Homo sapiens: one gene and its partner. The protein of the gene in region 2 interacts with the protein of the main gene of each other region in a pairwise test. Each region holds a gene or a part of one and is shown on either strand. Other genes may lie near its edges.

What was found. The genes of interacting proteins can lie anywhere in the genome.
Region 1: the proteins of NR1H4 (region 2) and SETD7 interact in binary tests that used the Homo sapiens proteins (3 or more experiments, as listed by UniProt).

Annotation. Positions count from the first base shown.
Region 1 is NC_000004.12:139,553,208-139,560,709, reverse strand, and holds the start of SETD7 (histone-lysine N-methyltransferase SETD7), read left to right. Parts: upstream 1-4,490; 5' UTR 4,491-4,572; coding exon 4,573-4,612; intron 4,613-7,502. UniProt on the Homo sapiens protein: Histone methyltransferase that specifically monomethylates 'Lys-4' of histone H3. H3 'Lys-4' methylation represents a specific tag for epigenetic transcriptional activation.
Region 2 is NC_000012.12:100,469,834-100,477,312, reverse strand, and holds the start of NR1H4 (bile acid receptor), read right to left. Parts: upstream 3,448-7,479; 5' UTR 3,254-3,447; intron 1-3,253. UniProt on the Homo sapiens protein: Ligand-activated transcription factor. Receptor for bile acids (BAs) such as chenodeoxycholic acid (CDCA), lithocholic acid, deoxycholic acid (DCA) and allocholic acid (ACA).

The DNA.
Region 1 (7,502 bases), on a different chromosome or scaffold from region 2:
CTGGACCTTTATTTGGTGCCCTTGATGTCCCTGCTCTTCCCAGTGCTCCACAAGCTGCAAACGCTTCCCTTTCATCCCCATCTCCTCCCCCACCCGTCTCCTCCTCGCTGCTCCTCTCCCAGCCCCTCCCTCCAGCTTCTGCAGTTGTCACTAACACAGTTAGCCACTTGATTAGTGACTCAGTGATTCAGAACCCAGGAACCTTGGTTCTCCTAAAACTTCCATGCTTCCCTCCCTAGAGTCAAGATAAAGGTTCTCCCCTCACCTGCCTGCCCAGATAGAGCCATTAACGTGAGAGGACTTGAGTATTCAGTTTGTTGGAGTTGCCCTGGCTTCTTCCCATTTCCTTTTTATGTGCCTTTTCCTGGGGCTTCTCAGGCTCTATTTACCTTTTCTCCAGAAAAGGTGGACAGAGAAGGTTTGAGCTTCGAATTTATGTAGCCCAACTCTTCATTTACAGATGGGAAAACGAAGGCCCCCCCCCCGGCCCCCGCAGAACTGAATTGCCCAGTTGCTTGGCTAGTTCTTGGTGGAACCAAAACAGACAAAGCAAAAACTCAATCAAACTGGCTAATTTGGTGGGAAAAAATCTTGTGAAGGAGTGAGCAGTGCCAAAACGAGACTTGATGATTATTTAAAAGGTCTTTCACTAATTTTATCCTTGTCATCCTGCTGGCGGTGTAAGCAAGTGATGGAAACCAGAGCCAGGCCAGCAACCATAAAGCCACCAGGGCTTCTGGAGAGGCTCTGATGCGACTTCCTACCGCTGAGGTCTCAGAGGCTCCTCCCTCCCAAATACATGGAGACCCAGAAGACTGCTTGGGCCCCTCCACTCCCTGCCAGCGGGCAGGATGAGGAGTCAGTAACAGCCAACAGTAGTGAATCCCACATAAGTTCCACATTCACTACTTGTTTCACAATTCGCTTAGCATGCATAGCAGCGAATTGACAGAATTGTTTCCCCTAAATGTAGGAAGGTGCATAAAATACAAGAAGCTTGTAAAAATATATTTATTGCAAAAGTTATATCAGTCTTGTATGTAAGCACCAGCCTTCTCCAGGGAAAGACAGGGGTGGTAGAATGAATAAAATTAACTCAGTATTTTGACTGCTTGCTGCAATGGAAGAGGGAATTATGTTTCCCAAGCTGGGTATGAAGAGAAGGAATATAGCCTTGGAGGCAATGGAAACTAAGCCAGAGCAGCTTAGAAAAGTCACCCCTCCTCCTGATTCAAGACCAAAGACAGGGAAAAAAAAGTCACTCTCAGTGTGAACATGAAAGCAAGTCTCACCCAGCCTAGATGTTGGATGTCCTGTGCGGTCCCGTTCCTCCCTGGTAGAGCTTGTTCTGTCTCACTGGGATCTGCCAAGTTAGGAGCTGAGCCACACTACTTCTGCTGCTGCTGTTGCTGCTGCACATTGTTTGTGATTAAGAGTTTTATTGATTTTCTAGCCCATGACCACATTGGTGGGGACAGAGTACGACAGGGGAAACTGGTGGAAAGCCAAGTAGAAAGAGAGTTTATGAAATCAGCTCTCAATGAAGAAAACTGTGGGAAAGAATGCGATGGAAGCAGATTTGGGGCCAGTCGATGTGGGAAAGTAGAACAACTCAAAAATGCTCTTCAGATTTGAACTGAAACAAAGCACTTTGCCAAAACATAGGAGGAGAATCCAGTCTGTGAGAAAGCCTCAGCACTGTTTATATAAAACAGAATATTCCTATCTGCAAAATCATTGCTGACAATGCTTAACCCACATTCTGTACCAGGCACTGTGTTGTGTTCTAGGACCATAAATAAGAATCAGTCCGTCTAGAGAAGGAGACTCGAAACATACACAACATGATTTGTAAAGATACAAGTGGATCTTAAGAGAGTCATAAAAACATTTTGCCCCAGCTTTGGGCCCAGAGCCAGCAGGAATGAATGGTGGGGGAAGAGGGATGGGACTGTGTCCCTGCTGCTGCCTGCCTCATGTGCAGATCTGGTGAAGGTTCTCTGTAGTTTGACCCCGCATCACTACTGACTTTGCTAGAAAGACCCTGCTCCCTTCCTGTCCCTGCCTCTTGTAGGTCCAGAGGACCCCTGCTTCACCGACGGCGGGGGCCGGGGTTGGGGGGTGCCGTAGGCAGGGTTTCAGGTGTTCTCAAGGTAGTAGGTAGAAAGGGAGCGCTTGACAGTTTGGGTGCTTAGTACAGGCTGGGAAAACCTCACAGCACCAAGGGGACAGTTGGACACTTGCAACATGATTCCTCCCCTCTCCTTCACTCCCACACGTACCCACCCACCATGAAACTGTGTCTTCTGTACGTCTTGAGAGATTTCTTCCAGCCTCCCAGCCCTGCCTCACTGCCTTTGAGTAAGAGAATAAAGTCTTTTTGCTGCTTCCTTCAGCTTTCAGCATTGTTTTTCACCCTGAAAATCAACTGGAAACTGGGGAAGACGAGTATCTGGTATGTTTTAGTGCACCAGTATAATATGCAAGGGAGGGGGTGATATGTAAAAAGGTTAAATGAGAAAAAATATCATATAATTCAAAACCAGTGAGTGACCGAGCTCAGTAAATGATGGCTTTTTAAAAATCAGATATAAAATCCTGTTTCTGTGGTTCATGTTTGAAAATGATGTAACCTAAAGTGGCTCTTTCATCTTCCACTGCACGTACACCTTCTCTGTTTAGCCTTGGACTCCCAGTATCTGCACTGGAGGACTTTAAGGAGGTCAAACCTAAGCCAAGAGACTTCAGAGAGGTATAGACTAAGCTAGAGGGTGTCTTGCTTGAGCCAAAGAACCTCAGAGTGCTCTAGCCTAAGCCCCAAGGACCTTATGTCAATGTAGACTAAGCCTCTAATCTGGAGGAATTCAGGCTGGCTGGCTGGGCTCCCAAGACACCTCTGCAGGTGAGCAGCACCAGGACTCAAGTCTCCTAACTTCTGGTCCAGGACCCTCCCCTTTCTAAAACAGTCAAAGGGGCTGAAATTCCTGGAAGTGTGTGGGGCTAATGTCCCTAGCATTGTTCTCTTTTTCATAGAGGAAAAGCTGACTTTAAGAAACAAGCCGGCAATACTTGACAAAAATATCTACCATTTAAGCACAGAGCCAAAAGCAAGGAGTAGTCTCCTGGGCGCTGGAAGTATTTTGAAATCCCCAAAGTCTCATTCATTGATCAGAAAACAAAATGGAATTACTTTTTTTTTGCTCCCTCCTCCCCTCCATGCAGTAGCTGTTCTTGGCGGGTGCCCAGAGCGGCACCCGGTAATTCCACGGTACATTGTGTACATTTACATCTGTTTAATCGGCTATTTACAGTCGCCCTTTACCGCCACCTGTAAGAGGCAGCGCCATAACGACACTAAGTGGCCGGGCCGGAAGCCGGGTGCCCAATGGTTTTCTCCACTTGAGGACGCCTGAATCTGTGAAGTGGTTGGCACTTGGAGAAACAGAGAGACAGCTGGGGACATCACACGTACAGGGCGGGAGGCGCGGGAAAGAGGCGCGCCAGACGGAGGGTCCTTCCTTCCTCGTTAGCTCCACTCGGCGGCTCCTTTTCCATTACCACAGCAGCAAGGAGGAACCTGCCGAGCCTTCGGTGCGGCTTGTTTCCTGCCTGACAGAGAGCCCGCTGCCATTTGGATTTGATGAATTTCTGAATCACCCGAGGGCCTGGCGACCCGAAGGAGGGCGGGGAGTGGGGGCGCTGGGGTGGACCCGCCATCCTGCGGAATCCGGGCCAGATAACAGCCCCCGAGCTGGGGAAATCGGCTTGCGGATGTGATGCGGGACCGCGAGGACACCTGCGCTCCCTTGCGTGTCGCACTCGTGCAGCTCCCGGTGGCGACGGGGTGATGTGGGGGCGAGGGTGAGAGGAAGTCCAGGCGCCAGAGCGTCAGAAACGCTTCCTTAGCTTCCCTGGCACTTTGGAGGTTGTCTCGAGGGAACACGGACAGTGCACGACGGACTTTCAAGTTGCTCCCGGCACAACGGGAGGTCGGGAGCTCGGAGCCCCTACGGGCGGTCCAAGTGTCCGCGAGAAGCCCGCAGCGCCCAGGACCGCGTTGAGCGCTCGGGGCGCGCCAAGCCGCACCTAAGCAAAAGAGAAACGCTGACGGGCCGGAGGCGGGTTGGCTGGGACGCGGAATACGCGCGGCCCCGGAGCGCCTTTCGTTTTAAGGAGCCTTACTTCTGGAAAGGGACAGGGAACTGTCAATCAGCGAGGGAGGGAGCGCACCGGCGCTGGGTGATGTCAGCGGATCAGCTGCTCGATAACAAAGAGAGGGTATTACAGGAGAAAGTTGCAGCAGCGGCAGCGGCCAAGGCGGCACACCGGAGCCTCCGAGGCGAGGGGCAAGTGGGCGAAGGGAGGGGGGACGACGGCTGCTGCCGCAGCAGCTGAAGGCCAAGGAATTGAAAGGGCTGTAGGGGGAGGCAGTGCGAGCCAGCCCCGACTGCTCCTCCTCTTCCTCCTCCTCCTCCAAACTCGCGAGCCCCAGAGCTCGCTCAGCCGCCGGGAGCACCCAGAGGGACGGGAGGCAGCCGCGCAGCCCCGAGCTGGGCAGTGTCCCCAGCCGCCATGGATAGCGACGACGAGATGGTGGAGGAGGCGGTGGAAGGTACAAGCATTTCTCCGGGGCCGGGGGAGGAGGCGCAGAGGGCCTGGAGCGCGGAAGGAGTGGCGGGCTGCGAACAGCGCGGCGCCGGGCCCCGCGGCCGCCACTGTCCCCTACACGGGTGGCCGGTTGCCCGGCTCGGGCGGGGGCCCGACAGCCACGGTCACGCCGCCGGGAGCGCGCACTGCGCGGCGGGGCGCAGGCCGAGAATGGGGCTCCGCCAGGCCGGGGGCGCTGGAAACGCACGGCCGCTCCATCCCGCCCGGCCACAGCCTGCATCCACCCTCGGAGTTGCGAAACCTGCCCCGCGCTCTGGCCTTTCCGCCTTTGGGCGCGGAGGGTGGGTGCACTCCGCAGGGCAGCCCCTTGAGGCCGGCGGACTCCGCGGAGCAATCCCCTAGCCCAGTTTTGGCCACCCCGATCCCCTCCCGGCCGCCAGCCCTTCCCTTCTGCTGCCTCTGCGCCCCGCGGCGGCCGCGGCCCCGTCCGGGTAGGTCCCCCGGCGCAGCGCACGGGGCCAGACCAGGCACGTGGCAGCCGCGGCCCAGGCGGCAGCTCTTCCGAAAAGATGAAATCATTGTCGGGCGACGGACAAGTCTCCCGACCCGGGACTCGAACGTGCGCCGTCCGGGAGGCGGGCAGCCCTCCCCTCAGCTGCCCCCGAGCGAACTCAGTCAGGCCTCCCCCTCCCCCTTCCTGCTTGGCTGGGATGCAGCCGCCACGCTGTGCAGGCGCGCCGCGAGTCCGCACCGAGATTGCTGGGTGACACTTAACTTTCTGAATTCCATGCCGTTGGCTGTGGGTGATATCACCGCCTCAGTGTCGTGTTTCTCCGCCCCTTCTCTTCTACCGCCCCTCCCCCGACTTTTCTCGCCACTTTGTTTTGCTGAGTTTCTCCACCTTTTTTTTTTTTTTTTTGTTAGTTCTGAAAAAACGATGTGGGGACGTTATACAATCTCGTTGTTTGTATCATAGGATGTTATGATTTTGTAACAGCGAATACTGGAAAATACTCTTTAGCGTATTTATTTGGTTCCACTCCATACAGTACGTCGTGATGTTTTTCAGTGTGGTGTGGTATGATACCAGAATGTTTTAAACTAAGCATGTGAGTAAATAATTTTTAGCTGTTGGTTGAATCTGGTTTCTGTCTGATTTGTATAAACACAAGTTCTGACGAAGGATAAAGAAAAAAAGTGGCGACACTACAAATGCATAAGGATACATGGTTATTGTTACACTAGGGAAAAATCAGTTTTAATGTTTTCATAAACATAACTCCCTTTGCAGTGCTTCTGAGATCTTAAGGGGAGATTAAGCAGACTAATATTTCTGAACTCTTGAAAAGTATCCAATGTAATGCCAATATTAAAACTTATTTCTTCATCTAACTTCGAAGCCAATTAAAGACTGTGGTTTTTGTTAAGAAAATTTTCACCATGTTGTGAACTCACAGAGCTATTTATCTCTCTAATAAATAAAGCCAATGTTGGGGCTTACTGGAGTGAGGCCCAGATACATTGATTGAGTTGATCCACAGGGAGCCTTCTGAGAAGTTAAAAGTTGTTGACTTCTTGTGCCTCCATGTTGTGAAAGATAAAGGAAAAATGATCTCAGATTGTTAGGGCTTGCTCTCTTTCTTCAACGTTTACTTTTACTTGTAAAAATTAAATACAAACCCTTAATTGCTGGTACTGTTCTCCATGTTAAACCACATCCATTCCCCTTTGAAGCTGTTTACAAACATATGTCCAGTTGTCCATAGTCCTCAGGCTCCTTTGCAGACTGTGACCAAGAGCTTTAGAAATGGCAGTATTGTTTTTTGAGAACATCCACTGGATTCGAAAACAGGGAAGTTCATATAAACAGGGATGGTTTTGTTTTATAGGGTAATTATGTACATTATTGTCCAAAATCAGAACCCCCTTGAGAATGAGAGGGCACACTATTAATAATGATGCTGGGGCAGGTAGCTTAAGCCTTGAATGTCTGGGGCAATCTGGGACACATGGTCACTCAGTTGTAGCTAACTAAACAATTAGAGCAGCACAGAATCTTTAAAAGCCCCTAGAAGCATCTCAGGCTCTAACTTGCACAGTGCCAGGAGTGTGTGTGTGCACATGCAGTAAACCGTACCTGTGCGTGCACTCTTGTCCAGCCATTCTTGGCCTTTTTAGTGCTGTTTGCAATAGTCTTTACATAACATCTAACACTTACATAGGGGACTGGTATAAACTGCTTCTGTTCTTTCCCAAAGAGAAGCTAGTCTGAATATCTTAGTGTTTAAGTACCAACTAATCTACCTCTTTCCATAAACAGAGCCTCTGTTCTCAGTAGTTTCATTGTCATAGCTATTATTATCATTGCTATAATTGTTTAGTTCTTATTAAGTGCAGGCTCTGTGCTAAGTGTTTCACAGACATTATCCATTCAGTCTTATTCAGTCTTATGAGGTGGGTACTAATATTATCCTAATTTTACAGAGGCGGGAACTGAGGCATACAGAAGTTAAGGACTAATCCAAGAACACTCAGTGAGGTGGAGAGACTGGCTTGGACTTCCAAAACAGCCCTCCACCAGACCAAACTGTCTTCCTACATTTTTTATTTTTAATGAGTTAGTCAAATTTATGAAACACTTGATAACTGAGTTTGGAAGCAACAGTTAAATATTATGTCAGTGCCATTTTTTATCAGTGTAACTCTGTAGAGGTTGGTTCTGACAGAGTTCAGTGACTTTCAGAAAAATGTATTTGGGGAGAAAGAACCTGTGTCCTCTGCAATAGCTATCTTTTTTCTTCTTCATTAGAGATTTACTCTGGGGAAGAAATTAGTCTCTTCAGGATTGAGTTTAAATGTCTTATATATCATGTGCATTTGGTTCTCTGTCAGGG
Region 2 (7,479 bases):
CTTAATCCTAACAAAGAATAAATCTTATTTTTTTTCCTGTGCAATATTTGCAATTTTACTTTGCAATCAAGTTGCATTATATTAGTGTCATCTTATCACCAATTTACAAAGCAGAGAGAGTAGGAATAGTAGATGTTCTTTTATGGCCAAAATTGGAAATGGGCAAACTGAGGGAGAAAATAATTCACTGTGAAGAGCAAAGGGGTTAGGGGATTCCAGAGCAGGGTGAGAGAAGGGAGAGAAAAGACAGAAGGATGAATATTTGTATGTAATAATGATTTTTGCCTCCTCATACAGCTTGGTGACTAAGGACACTCGTATGGTGATGCCTTTTAGCTACATCTTCACTGGTAGAAACTACTGTGACAATAAAAAAATACCTGGGAGGAAAATTGTTCCTATTTCTTATTTTTTAAAAAAAATTTTGAGGTGGTGTCTCTCTATGTTACCCAGGCTAGAGTATAGTGGCATTATCATAGCTCACTGCAGCCTTGAACTCCTGAGCTCAAGCAATCCTTCCACCTCAGCCGCCCGAGCTGCTGGGATCACAGGCACTCATCACTGTATCTAGCTTGTTCCTATTTTCTTTTATTCCCCTTTATAATCTGTGTTGCTAGAGACTAAGATAAAAATGAGACTGAGAGCAAAGGGAAGGGAAATCTCTTTCTATGAAGTAAAGAACCTTTTCTGTCCTTTATGCACCCACCTAATGACAATGTGAGCCTTTGAAAATCTATCACATCATGATATGCATTCTCATGGCATTCATAATCCAGAGACTGTGAGCCACAGCAGTTCTGAGCTCCTCTCTAAGATGTCCCTAATCACAGCAGCATGGAGAGTTCATTGTGGTCTTTAATTAAAACGCTGATAACGGAAATATTCACCCAGCTATCTTAGACTGGTCTCTGGGTTAAAACAAATAGTGCTCCAAACTTTCCAGTTTCCCTACTGATGGTGCAATCTCTCGAAAATGCCCTATGCAGGAGGTTTCAGGAAACGTCTAACTAGTTCCTGGGTTTAACAAATCACCCCTGTCAGGCTGGAATGCTTAACGGCTGGTCCCCCCTCGCCGCTCCCCGATCATTCCCCATTTCAAGTTTTCCCAGCCTCCGCCAATAGCCAATATCAGAGTAGCCAGGAAGAGGCTTTGGAGTCAGAAAGACCCGCCCTCAAGTTCAGGTCCCGCTACTTCCTAACTATCTGCCTGTGGACGGGTCACTTGTATTTTTTGAGTCTCAGTTTTCTCATCTGTAAAATGAGTATAAGAAAAACTCCTGGCTGGGCGCAGTGGCTCACGCCTGTAATCCTAGCACTCTGGGAAGCCGAGGCGGGCGGATCACCTGAGGTCAAGAGTTCGAGACCAGTCTGGCCAACATAGTGAAACCCCGTCTCTACTAAAAATACAAAAAATAGTGGCATGGTGGTGCACGCCTGTAGTACCAGCTACTCAGGAGGCTGAGGCAGGAGAATCGCTTGAACCCGGGAGGTGGAGGCTGCAGTGAGCCGATATAGCGCCACTGCACTCCAGCCTGGGAGACAGAGCGAGACTTTGTCTCAAAAAAATAATAATAAAAAGTAAAGAAAAACTCCCATACAGGGTTTTTGTGAGAAGGAAACAGGCGAATGAAGTAAAGGCTAGGACATGTTAGTAGACATTGTAGAAAAGTTAGCTCCATCACACACTCATACATACACACATTTCTTTTCTTTTCCTTGCAGAGTACAAAGGCCTCACAACCAATGGATATTCCATTGCAATTGGCCCAATCTTGAAGAGGTGGAAACAAGAGGAAGGACAAGGATTCCATGACTTTCCCTCTCCAGCTGTGAGGAGAGGGCAGAGGTACGTGGTGGGAAATTGCTGCAAATCTTGAGGAAGGGTCTCAGGACAAGAGAGCTTTGTCCCTGGCCAGTACTTTATCAGTTAACCAGGAGTTGCATCAGTATTTGTTGCAACATCCTCAGAAAACAGAAAAGTCCACGGTACAAATGGCACAGATCCATAATTTGGAGGACTGGGGGTAGGAACGTAACACAAAGATAAAAGTGTCTATCATTTTATAAAATCACAGCTAGAAACAAAATGGTAGCTCCCTGAACATCTTTTCCTCTCTTCTCCCTTCCTTTTTTTAGGAACAGAAAAAAAAATTTAGATAGATAGATAGATAGATAGATAGATAGATAGGTAAACCACTTTACTGAGGTGTGACTGACATATAAAAGCTTTACATATTCCATGTATACACTTTGATGAGTCTGGGGATAGGCATACACTCATTAAATCATCACCACAATCTATACCATAAACCTATCCATCACCTCCAAAAGTTTCTTCCTGCCTTCTTATTTATCACTAATATTATTTCTAAGGGTTCCTACCCCTCTTGTCAATACTCCTGAAGTGATTCTAAGACAGCACCAGAAACAGCATCAGATTTCTTTATAGCTCAAAGCTCAGGTGTGAGTTTCTTAGAGGAAGAATTCAAGGTGAGTCACTTGTCATTCCCTCCTGCCCCTCCCTTCTGAATAAAAACCCAATTAAAAGAAGTAAGTCAGGCTCCACAGTTGCCCCATTCACTCTGTCAATAAGGAGACAAAGAGGTATCTTATCTATAAATTTAGTCCTTGGACAATTTTATTACTAAAGTTCTTCGTCATACTCACATTTCTATCTTTTAAAAATATTTCCATCTGATATTTCCTGTCATATTAATATTCAAAATGGAAAGCAATAGAAGAGTTTACAACTGAAGTCAAGAAAGAAGACTTTTTCCACCTACTCTTCTTCTAGGGAAAAATTTCATTTCAATTAAGCATAGGTTAAATGTCTTATTCTTAGTTCCCAAGTCATCTGACATTAGCAATACTCCCAAACTCACATCAAGATTTGATAAATCACCAAAATATAGCACACTATACAAGTCAAATTGTTTATGGAATCAGAACGGAGACATTTCTGAAATGCACTATCTCCAGTGATTTACTCAGGTGACCACAATGTTAAAAGAGTATTTCTAAATAAGTTTTCAATAGGTAAGCAACTGTTAAGACTCATTAACTTTTGCTTCTGCTTCTTTTTGTTTTTTAGTTTCTCTCTTTTTTAATTTTCAGGACTTTACATCAAACTCTACTAACTTAGAATTCATTTATTGACATACATTACAGATGTCAAAGAGAAACTTTTAAGTGACTATTTTTTCTCTGTTGCTGTGAGATACACAACCCACTCCCAAAGGAATTAGGTACTTACTTGGATTGTTTTGGGTCAGAGATGGACTTTCAAGGCCCTGGGAGGATTCTGGACTGAGTCTTCCTCTCCAGATCCCAGCGATTTTGCTACAAATGCTCAGAATCCAATTTCGCATTAGGATAAGTCGGGGAGACAATGAGGTGAGGAGGAGGAGAGAGTTCCAGTGTACTGTGCATGATCACAGGCGGCCTTCTGGGCTAGCAGCAGCATCTCTTCCTTGGCTCTGTGCCTCATGGACACAGATTAGTCATTAACAATCCTTCCCTGCTAAATGATATAAACATAGAAAGGAACCTTGGGAGAGCCTCGAGATTCCCAAGACAAAACCGCAAAGCCCCAGAATGAGGAATGTGACAAAACCAAGGAGCCCTGCAGCTTGCCTTTGAAAGCATTTCTCCTCTGGCCGTTTTGTGGGCTCCTGGGCACCCGTATTTCTGTACACATCAACTAAAACCAAACTGTCATCTTCCCTCTCTCTCACTACAACTTCTTTGAATAGCTCTATCACTTCCCCGGGACTGAACTAGAAGCTGGGAGCCTTTTTGACCCTTCCCTCTGCCCAGCCACCCATATCAAATAATAACAGATTTGGGTTGATTGCATCTTTGGAATGTCTCTTATTTCCAACCCACATTGTTCTTCTCCTACTTTGGGCCTATCATAGCTTCCTTTCTGGATGACATTGGTCCCACAACCCCTTTTTCTTCTCTCCCCTTCTTCTGTTTTCCAAATTGCACAGCAGTGTGGAAGCACAGGCTCTGGTTAGATGCCCACTCTTTAGTCACAGCCTTGAGCAAGACACTTAGCCTCTCTGAGTCTCAGTTTCCTCATCTGTAGAATGGATATGGAGAAACCATCTCATGGGCTGTGGTGAGAATTACATGAGTAGTGAAAATGTTTAGAAAAGTGTGTGGCAGATAGCAATCACCCAATAATTTGTGGCAATTATTATTTCTCTCCTTCATTAGTTGAACCATCATTGATTGATTATCAGCCTACTATGTACCCAGCAACTTGCTAGGCACTCCCCTCATCGAAAATCCCCAATGCACTCTCTATGCCTAAAAAACGAACACAAAATGCTTGACATTTAGAACCCCTTCCACACCTGAAGATCTAGCCCTAATGTCTCTAGGATTTTCTCACATTCTGTCCCTTCAGACATCCCAACCTCTGCCAACCTGTACCAAGCTCTCCCGCCTCCACACTTTTGCACAAGCTCTTCCTTCTACCTCAGTTACTTTCTTTTCACACCCACACATCTTCCAGGCGTGGAACAGAAGCAGAGTTCTCCCTGAAGCCAGCCCCATTCCTCATCTGCCCCTATTCTCCCCACCCAACTCCCTTGATCTTTTATTTGTAGTTTCCTTGCTGTCCCTTAAATCCTCTGACCTTATATATTATAGTTTTCTACTTGTTTTATCTCTTTTACAAAAACCAGGCATGGTAGCAGACTTGTCTTTGTATCTACCCTTTGTCTTAGCACAGTGCCTCTCACAGAAAAAGCATTGTGTAACTCTTTGTTAACGCAATCAATGAGTGAGCTGAGAAACAACTTCCCAAAGCAGCATGGCTGCACATGCACCTGTGTGTGTGTGTGTGTGTGTGTGTGTATGTGATGTGTGCATTTCCCATCTGTGATGTGTGTCATTTGTTTCCCGTCACAAGGTCAGCTAGTAGAAGATCTACATTCAAACCTGTTAGAAATGTTATATTTTGCTTCTCTTATAAAATAGCATTTTTGTAGGTCCTACAGGCTCCTACTTCCTACCTACTTCTGGGGGTTCCCAATGTACTATGGTGCATCCTCCAGCCCCTTCGGCACAAGGAAGAGGGTCACCCCAGGCCTGTACATTTTCTTTTGAAGAGAGTTTGCACTGACACTTACTGCACTCTGCAGCTCTGGGCTGCCTGAGGGACTCCTGTGTGACTTCTATGTGACACCAAGCCCATTTCTTCTTGGATGATAAGAGCCTGTACTGTGATTTCATTCTCTCCAGCAGAGATGGAGACAATGACTGAAGACACAGACTGTGGCGCTGGACCGGCTGGGTTCAAATCCCAGCTCTGCCACTTACAAGCTGTGTGACCTTAGACCTTAGGCTTTTCCTTAACATCTGTCTCAGTTTCCCCATCTGTAAAATAAAGATATAATTACTATGTATTTCATGAGGTTATTGCAAGGATTTAATGAATTAATCTATGCAAAGCGCTGGTACCTGACACACAGAAAGTGCTGTGTAGGGGTTAGCTGTTATTATTTTCTCTGGGCCTTCACACTGACAATCGTATTTGCCCACTGGACTGGATACTCCCTGAGGGTGGCATGTATTTCCCATCCTTTTGGATCTCCAGTGGTGTAGCACATAGTGCTGGGTATGACATAAGAGCCCATTCAAAAATTTCAACAATTATTTTTCTTCTCTTCACACCACACAATCAATCCATTAGAAAATGTTTAAGTTTTACCTTCACAATATATGTATTGAATCTGATACCTTCCCACCACCTCCACTGTCATCTCTCTGGTCCATGCCAGGTTTCTTGCACCTGGGTTTGTGCCATGGCCTCCTAAGTGGCCTCCTTATTTCCATGCTTGCACTCTGTCATTTGTTCCCAGCATGGCAGCCAGAGTGATCCTACCAAAACCAAAGGATCATGTCGTTCTTTTGCTCAAAACCCCCACAGGCTTTCATCTCTCTCAGAGTAATGGCCAAACTTCTTACAGTGACCCCAAGGATCTAAATGACCCTGAATCCTACCCCATCCCAACATAGCTCTAACTTCATCTATCACTCACGCCGGTCATGAGGCCTCCTTGTTGTTCTCTGAACTCATAAAGCACATTCTCTCCCCAGGGCCCCTGTACTTTCTGTTCCATAGCCTGGATTGATTTTTGCCCAGAGACCTTCCATTGCATGCTACAGGTTTCTACTCACCTTACCAGAGAGGCCTTTCCTGGACACACCAAATACAATGCCATTTCTCTTCCCAGTACAGGATATCACTTCTCATTTCTCATTCCTTTTTTTGTTTGTTTGTTTTTGGAGACACAGTCTGGCTCTATCACCTAGGCTGGAGAGCAGTGGCATGATCTTGGCTCACTGCAACCTCAGCATTTCGGGTTCAAGCGGTTCTCCTGCCTCGGCCTCCCGAGTAGCTGAGACTACATGCACGTGCCGCCACACCCAGCTAATTTTTTGTATTTAGTAGAGATGGAGTTTCGCTATGTTGCCCAGGCTTGTCTCAAACTCCTAAGCTCAAGCGATCTTCCCGCCTCAGCCTCCCAAAGTGCTGGAATTACAGGCGTAAGCCACCGCACCTGGCCTCTCTTCTCATTCTTACCTTGCTTTATTTTACCCTGTAGCACTAAGCACTGAGCACCACTTAGCATACATGGACATGTTTCATGTCTCTCTCACTATATGGAACATAAATAGATGATTACACCTATCTTGTTCACCACTGTGTCCCTGATAACTGGATGCCCCAGGCAATGTGCTAGTGCTGAGTAGGAGAGACCCAAAACCCAAGCTCTGAAAGCTCACCATCCCATGAACAAGGGACACTCAGCAAAATAATAACAGCAATAACCATAACAATAAAGTAAATCATATAAAGAATGAATAACATTCACTTGTGTTATGTGATAAGATGGAAAAGTTCAGGGTGTCATAAAATACTCTCCATTAATCATAACAAACAGAAAATGTGCTCTCTATTCATGGGATTAATTCTAACTAGCACAGAAAGAAAGAAGGGGAAAAGGAACAAGCATTTACTGAGCAGCTAATATTTTCCAAACAGTCTGTTAAGCACTGGCAAATCAGCAGTGAACAAAATGATATGGTTCCTGCAGTCATGCAATTTACAGCCTAGTGTGAGAGACAGACAATTAATAAAAACTACACAGACAATCTTATAAGTTCTCTTGTGACAGCATGTTATGAAGGAGAAGCACAGGGTTCTGCGACTGTATTTATCAGGGAGCCCTCACCATGTCAGAGGGGTTTAGAAAGGCTTCCTCTAAGAAAGTGATGTTTTAGCTAAGATGGAAGGATCTCTGATGTGTTGGGAGTGAAAGGTGTTGAGAAGGAAAAAAAGGAGCATTTCAGGGTAAGGAAAAGACAGCAGCAAAGGCTCTGAGACAGGAGAGAGGTTGGAGAATCCCATTAAATAAAGAGAAGGACAATGTCTTTCAAGGAAGAATGTGGGGGAGGAACAAA